Linked DNA regions of Homo sapiens. The protein of the gene in region 2 interacts with the protein of the main gene of each other region in a biochemical or structural test. Each region holds a gene or a part of one and is shown on either strand. Other genes may lie near its edges. The genes, in order: OBI1 and CNOT11.

Evidence for each region.
Region 1: the proteins of CNOT11 (region 2) and OBI1 form a complex in vitro, tested with the Homo sapiens proteins (one study listed by BioGRID).

The regions. Positions count from the first base shown.
Region 1 is NC_000013.11:78,652,454-78,656,483, reverse strand, and holds part of OBI1 (ORC ubiquitin ligase 1), read left to right. Parts: intron 1-4,030. UniProt on the Homo sapiens protein: E3 ubiquitin ligase essential for DNA replication origin activation during S phase.
Region 2 is NC_000002.12:101,262,886-101,266,385, reverse strand, and holds part of CNOT11 (CCR4-NOT transcription complex subunit 11), read right to left. Parts: intron 1,542-3,500; coding exon 1,339-1,541; intron 265-1,338; exon of another isoform or gene 1-264. UniProt on the Homo sapiens protein: Component of the CCR4-NOT complex which is one of the major cellular mRNA deadenylases and is linked to various cellular processes including bulk mRNA degradation, miRNA-mediated repression, translational repression during translational initiation and general transcription regulation.

The DNA.
Region 1 (4,030 bases), on a different chromosome or scaffold from region 2:
CAGCCTCCTGAGTAGCTGGGATTACAGGCATGCGCCACCACGCCCGGCAAATTTTGTATTTTTGGTAGAGACGGGGTTTCTCCATGTTGGTCAGGCTGGTCTTGAACTCCCGAACTAGGTGATCTGCCCGCCTCGGCCTCCCAAAGTGCTGGGATTACAAGCGTGAGCCACCACTCCCAGCTTAAGTTACTTAACTCTTTTGAGCCTGTTTCCTTATCTGTAACAGTAAAAATATGGTAATAACATCAACTCCCCATCCTTTCAGTTTTCAGAAGATTAAACAAAGCATGTGCAAAGTTTAGCATAAAGTCTGGCACATAATGTTTAATAACTGTTAGCTTTTACTATAGCCATTGAGGCCAGCCCTCAAACTGAGGAAACCAGCCTTTTCCAGTAATTGTTCTTCCCAGTTGCTTTGTGAGGCTGGAGCACTTCAAAATGAAGATTTGCATTCCCAACCAAATGAGACCTGTTTGTTCTGGAAATTGCCACAGTACATCCAGAATTTTCAGCTGGTTCCATGTCTCTTTTCTTTTTTATAGTGAAAGCAAATTCAGTATGATTGTGCTGCTCACCCTCCTACACGTATTATACTGTGAGATACTAAAACTGGCGTGTCCTCAGGTTCGCTTCTGCTTCCCTGACATAGAGCATCTCTGGCCACTTCTAAGAATGTTCCTAAGGTCCTTCGTGCCTAGCTCTTTTTTAAAGATAATTGTTCTTGTGCTACTGTTACCATATGTCCCCAGATCTCACAGTCAGCATCTTCTCTTTTGATTATTCAACAGAATTAAGGACCATTATCCCTGGAGGGTCACAAGGTGGATACCATGAAGGGGGAGAGATGAGGGCAGGGCATTAAATCTGAAGAGATAGATGCCAGTGGGGATGGAGAGGAAGGAGAGAGAGCCCAGGTATTCACCTGTTAATGCTTTGTCTTTGCACTTAAAATTGGAAAATTTACACCTCTGTCTCTACTTCAGTTTTAAAGGTGAATTTTCTCTACCCAATAATGTTTTTAGTTACTTTGCCAATATTGTAAGTAAGAGCTCTATGTGGCCTGAAGAAGTTAGGTACCATCCCATGGGATGATTTACGCATAACATATTTTCTTACCTATTCTTCCCTGTTTTTTTTTTGTTTGTTTGTTTCTTAAACTAGTGGGCCAGCAAGCAGAAATGTAGTAATGATCTATCCCAGAGTATCTGTTAAGTGACATTTTGATAGTGCCACCAGGCTGTTACAAACCAGTTTACCTCTAGATAATTCCAGGGTTTATCTTTTCAATTGGGACTCAAGCTGTGAAACCAAATTATGGCATGTAATACTTTTTATTGGCCGTGCATGCATTTTGCCATGAGTGAAAGCCAAATGTGGCCCGCAGTTGGTTTTATGAAAGGGTGAAGGAGATTCTCAAGAGAAATGCAAAGCAACTAATGCTTTTCAGCATTAATGTATCATATTCAGTTATTTCTCATTCGACTATGAGTCCAGTTTTGGGTCCTACCCTTTAAGATAAACAATAAACCAGAGTATTTTGAAAACATTTGGGGGAGAATGAAATTGGGATTGGAATGTAGGTGGACTGGAATAGTGCTGGAATGAATGGATATGATAGGGAATCTTTAATTAAAATATTTTTCATTTGGAAGGGACTCAAGCCTTGTGTGGCTCCATAAAATTATGATTTCTACTTAATATTAAGGGCAAGTGTTCTGGCTGAAATAACCAGAAATGAAATCAGCTTCCTTATAATGCAGGAGTTCCTGTGTCTTGGAGTATCCTCTAGTAGACTGACTGTTTCCCATAAGGAATGCTATCAAAAGGATCCCTTCTTTCAGGGATGCCTCTCTTCTTCTCACCCATATTGTTTATTTAAAATATTGAAAATATAGGGCTAGAGACAAAGCCTTATGCAACTTAGAGTCCTCACTCTAGGATGACAAAATTCATTAATCACTGTTCACTTGGAGCTGTTGATTGATCAGCAAGTCATCCACGTCAGTACATGGAGCCCATGTTTGAGTCCTGATTGCCTCTCAGTTCCCAAGAGTGGATTTAAGAACCAGCCTTGTACATAATTGTCATAAGTAATTTGCTTTGAAAAAAAGCCATATGGACTGCAAGTTCTACATTTTTCTCTTTTTTCCAGTTGAAAATAAGTTTGAAGGATTCACTTTCAGAAAAGTATAACAATATTGCATTTTATACATAGTGTATAATAAGTTAATTCAAAAATCGTAGATGTATCCTAGTAATTATCAGGGTTGGTATGTAATAGCTGACATACTTACTTGACAAGTACAATTCCAGTTTATCCCAAAGCATTTCTGGTAGGGATGAAGGTAGAAGAGAAGAGATGTATCATCTCTCCTTTTACCTAGACAGGAATGGGGAACCAGTTCTATAGGCATTAAGTGACTTATTTCACACAGGTTTTTTTTTTTTTTTTTTCCTTAAGTTATAGGACCTAAATTCTGGCCCAGAACCAGGGATTTCTTAAAACATAACCAAGAGCTATCCAGGAATTTTATTTTGGAAAGTTTCCAAATTCCTAATGTTGAAGTAGTGGTGCCCCTACCATAGTCATTTTTACACTGAAGACTAATCCTTTACATAGTCTTTCCAGGTCTTCACTAGAGAAACCGATAAAGTTTTGACAAGGTGCAAGAAAGAATAATATTCTTTCTAGAAGCACAGTTGGCTCTTGTCTCTAGTGAGGGGAGGATGCCAGAAGAGCAGGGGAGTTGGTTTTATAATAGATATAATTGCAAGACCAGTTGGTAAAGTTCATCAATACCGTCTTCACTCCCATCACCTCCATCAGTGTCCAGGATCTCACTTCCTTCAGGCACATCGTCCTGTATTTATTTCTCCCAGATTATTGTTCACTAACCCTGCTCCAAGGAAGAAAGAACTGTTTCTTAGTTGAAAGAACACATGATTTTGCAGTTGAATCACATTGAGTACAAATGCTAGCTCTACCATTTATAACCTGTATCATTATTTCTTAGAGTCTCAGTTTCCACAACTGAAAATGGATTTGATACAACAGCCCCACTAGCTTATTAGTAAGATTCCTTTGACTATACCATACTAGTGGTTCTCAACTAGGTGGAGGTAGATTTTGTCCCCCAGGGACATGGGGCAGTGTGTGGAGACATTTCTCATTGTTTTCAAGGGGCTGCTACTGGCATCTAGTGGGTAGAGCCCAGGGATGCTGCTAGCCAGACATCCTGTAATATGCAGGGAACCGCCTAAAACAAGACTTTCTTCAGTCCAAAATGTTAGTAATGTCAAAGTTGAGAAACGCTGTTTGAAGCCAATGTGTAACTCCTAGTGGGTAAGTCTAGGATGATATGGATATTAATGAACAACAGCCTTAGGCATGTCTCTGCCCAAGTATACTTGCTTTTTTAAGAAAGGGGATTTGGTGGTAGAGTGGACTCTCTTAAGACTGGAACATCTTTAAAAGAAATGAAATATCAGAGTAACAGATTGTAAGGTTAATATATCTGCCCCAAGAACTGCCCCCTCAGGCCCATTCCAGTAAGAAGAGCCCATCCTTTACACCTGGGGGATATACCCTAGGGCAGGAGTCTCCAGTCTCAGTCAGGTACTGTTCAGTCAGTGGCCTATCAGGAACCAGGACTGCACAGCAGAAGGCGAGCAGGGAGTGAGATAGTATTACCACCTGAGCTCTGCCTCCTGTCAGATCAGAGGCAGCATTAGATTTTCATAGGAGCATGAACCCAAATGTGAACTGTGCATGCAAGGGATCTAGATTGTGTGCTCCTTAGGAGAGTCTAATGCCTGATGTTCTGAGGTGAAACCCCCCAGTCTGTGGAAAAATTATCTTCCACGAAACCAGTCCCTAGTGCCAAAAAGGTTGGGGACCGCTCCCTAGGATACCACTTTACTATGCTTACTCCAGATGAGTTTGGAATTGTATGTCACTTACCATTGCCATTTTTTTGTCTTGCATTTTTATTTCATGAGTACTGTTTTATTGCCACGGGTCTCATTTGAG
Region 2 (3,500 bases):
AAATACTGTCTGGTTGTAACAATGTCAAGTCCTTTGCAGGTTTTTTTTTTCTGTCATCTGTTGTAACTAAAAATAATCTTAATGACCAACTAGTTCTCCCAAGAAACAGTCCTGCCCCACCCCACCCAGGTGGAGACCAGAAATACCTGAGAAGGGGGCGGAGTGGGAAGCCGGAGCGGGAATCCGGACAGCTGACCTGCTGCGAGTCATCAGTCTGCAGAACTTTACAGTTCAAGTCACACCCACACTTTGTAATTCAAACAGGTATCCTCAAAGGACTTTTTCTATGAAGTAAGCACTTCCTCTTTAAATGTCCTATGCTTTTTTTCCCCCGTCTACTTAATATGTTCCACAGTGGACTGTGTTTTCAGGATGGTCTTGCGAGCAAAGCGAACTACAAACGTTGCTATTATTTCGTTTTGAAAATGATATTTTTGGTGGCAAACGTGATAGGAGAGGTCATCTCCTAAAAAGTTCTAACTCAAAAGTGTGCAAACTGGATAAAATTCACCAACCAATAGAAGAGTGGCCTTGCCTTTCCTGAGGAGAGTCATCCAGTCTCACACTCGGGCAGTGGGGGCTACTTTAATCTCAAATACACCACGATCCAGCTGTGTGATGGGGGCGGGTTCCCCTTCCCAGCCTTGTTTTCCTCCCTACAGCCTGTCAGTAACTCCACTTTCCATCAGAAGCGTTACCATCAGCTCAAACGTAACCATTGTGTAGTGTCCCACTGTACACAGCAGTGACACCCCCACTACCCCACCTCTCCCAGGGACAAACATCACAAAGAAAAGTTAGAACATTTTTGCCATCAGACTTCTTGCCCCACCACAGCAAAATTACCAAAGAGTAGAACAAAGCTTCAGAGACCCAAAAACCTTTGCAACTTCCTACTGCTCACTCACAGTGACAGGATTAGTTTATTGCTTACCACTTTCCAAAAAAAAAATAAACTCTTGTTGGATTAAAGATAAGAAAATGCTCACAATGGCTGGGTACAGTGGCTCACACCTGTAATCCCAGCACTTTGGAAGGCCAAGGTTGGCAGATCACTTGAAGCCACCAGACCAGCCTGGCCAACAATGGCAAAACCCCATCTCATAAAAATACAAAAATTAGCCGGGCATGGTGGTGCATGCCTGTAGTCTCAGCTGCTGGGGGCGCTGAGGCACGAGTATCACTTGAACCCGGGAGGCAGAGGCTGCAGTGAGCCGAGATCGTGCCACTGCACTCCACCCTGGGCAGCCGAGTGAGACTCTGTCTCAAAAACAAATTTTTTTAATTAAAAATAAATTTAAAAAAAAAGATAAGAAAATGCTTACAATCAATACACACCTGTGTTTGTTGGGGAGAGGATAAGGGGCTTTTGAAGGCTTTGGCCATTATTCGTTTGATCTCCACACCAGTGCTATTCTTAACACACATCGATTTATCCCACTGGATCGCGTGGTCAGGCTCCGTGGGGTTTAGCCAAGCAAGTTCATCCTCACAAATGTGGAGTGGAGGCGGTGGACGAATAAACTCTGGTCGAAAATGGCCTGTAATGAGAGCCGTGATAGTTGCTCCTATCAGGAAGCTAACATCTCTACACATCTCACACATTTCACTTAATAAAGTATGCAAAGAAATCTCTTAATAAGGATGATGTGACTAGAACTCTCATACTTCAAAATCAGAAGCAGGAATGACACAGGAAGTCAGGGTTTCAGTCAGAATGCAAACAAGACAATGAAAGAACACTATGCCAGCATGATGCCAGAGAACAATCTATTCGCTTTGCAGAAGTGAGGAAAGCCTGGCCGTGATCTGCCCATGCTGCACTTGAGCATGGCCACTCAACAGCAAAAGGGCACGACTCCTAAACGGGTGAAGTCTTTTGATGAAAAAATGAAATACTATGCCCTCACACATCCTATTCTTAGTTACCACTATTTGTTCAGCTGCCACTATGATTTGTACTAGTTTTATCTTTGCATCTTATAACTGAAGTAACAAATTACGTGGCGATGAAGCAGCAGGAGGAAAAGTATGGTTGCCTTTTGATATTTCGAAACGAATGTGGAAACCGTCACGAATCCCTAAATTCACAAATACTATATTCATTTTCAGAAAACAATAGAAGTACAAAAGGAAAATGAAGTGGTTCAACTCAACTATTTTATAAAACAAGATTCATCCCTGAGTTACAAACCCACTGAAATAAATGCTGGCTAGGACTTCTGCTGAACCAATTTCACATCTCACATAGTTTCCACATAGGGCAGGAGTGGCTTATTCCTGTCATGGATCCTAGCCCTGCCAAATTTGAGAGTCTACTGTTGAGTTTACAGAAAATATTTTTTAGTTAAAAATCATCACTTTATCTTAAACATCTCCACTGCCTCTTCACTTACCTCACCAGGACTAGCATCTGAATCTCCCTTCAACCACTTACAAAAATAAAGTTTTTAACAATTTATGAGAAATACTACTTATGTGATAGAGAGTTCTTGCGAGGTGGGGACACCTGGTGTTTGGCTAGACCCACTTATTATGAGTGATCTGCTTTTCATATATCTTCCTGGTGACCTATGCAATTTAGAGTTCTGCCCGAGCAAATATTTAAAAGAAGCCATTACATGCCATGGACATTTCAGTCACACTTGTGACCAGCAGAAACTTCAAATATTAAACCTATGTATGTCAAAGATCTACTGTAAACCAAATGGTACAAAAGTCACTGTGTGAACTTCAAACTCATGGTGATACTACACTATCATCTGGTAAACATGTTCTCATCCCAAAGCAGAAAGCTTGCCTTCATAATTCAAAGCACACAGAAGCCTATAAAACAGATGCCAGGTAGAGTGGTGCATGCCTGTAATTCCAACTATGTGGGAGTCTGAGGTAGGAGGATCCCCTGAGCCTCAAGGGATTGAGTCCAGCCTGGGCATCATAGCAAGATTCCATCTCTTAAAGAAATCCCCAAAAAATGCAGCTATATTATTTCAAATTCTACAAGTGTTTTCTTTGAATTAAAGTAAATTAGGAGTTTATAAGAAAAACTTTAAAATGGAAAAGGAAATGATAGCAATAAGAAGATTTAACAGGTATAAAACAAAAAGATAATGAGCTGCTACAAAAAGACTCATTTCAGTAAAATGAGAATCTGTATTTTTTTTTTTTCCTTTTTGAGACAGAATCTCACTCTGTCACCCAGGCTGGAGTGCAGTGGTTCGATCTCGGCTCCTGCAACTTCTGCCTCAGCAATTCTCCTGACTCAGCCTCCCAAGTAGCTGGGACTACAGATGCATGCCACTACACTCGGCTAATTTTTTATTTTTAGTAGAGATGGGGTTTCACCATGTTGGCCAGGCTGCTCTAGAACTCCTGACCTCAAGTTATCCACCTGCCTCGGCCTCCCAAAATGCTGGGATTGCAGGTGTGAGCCACTGCGCCCAGCCTGTATCTTTAGGTATGCATAGGATAGACATGCAACAAACAACTTGGCATGCATT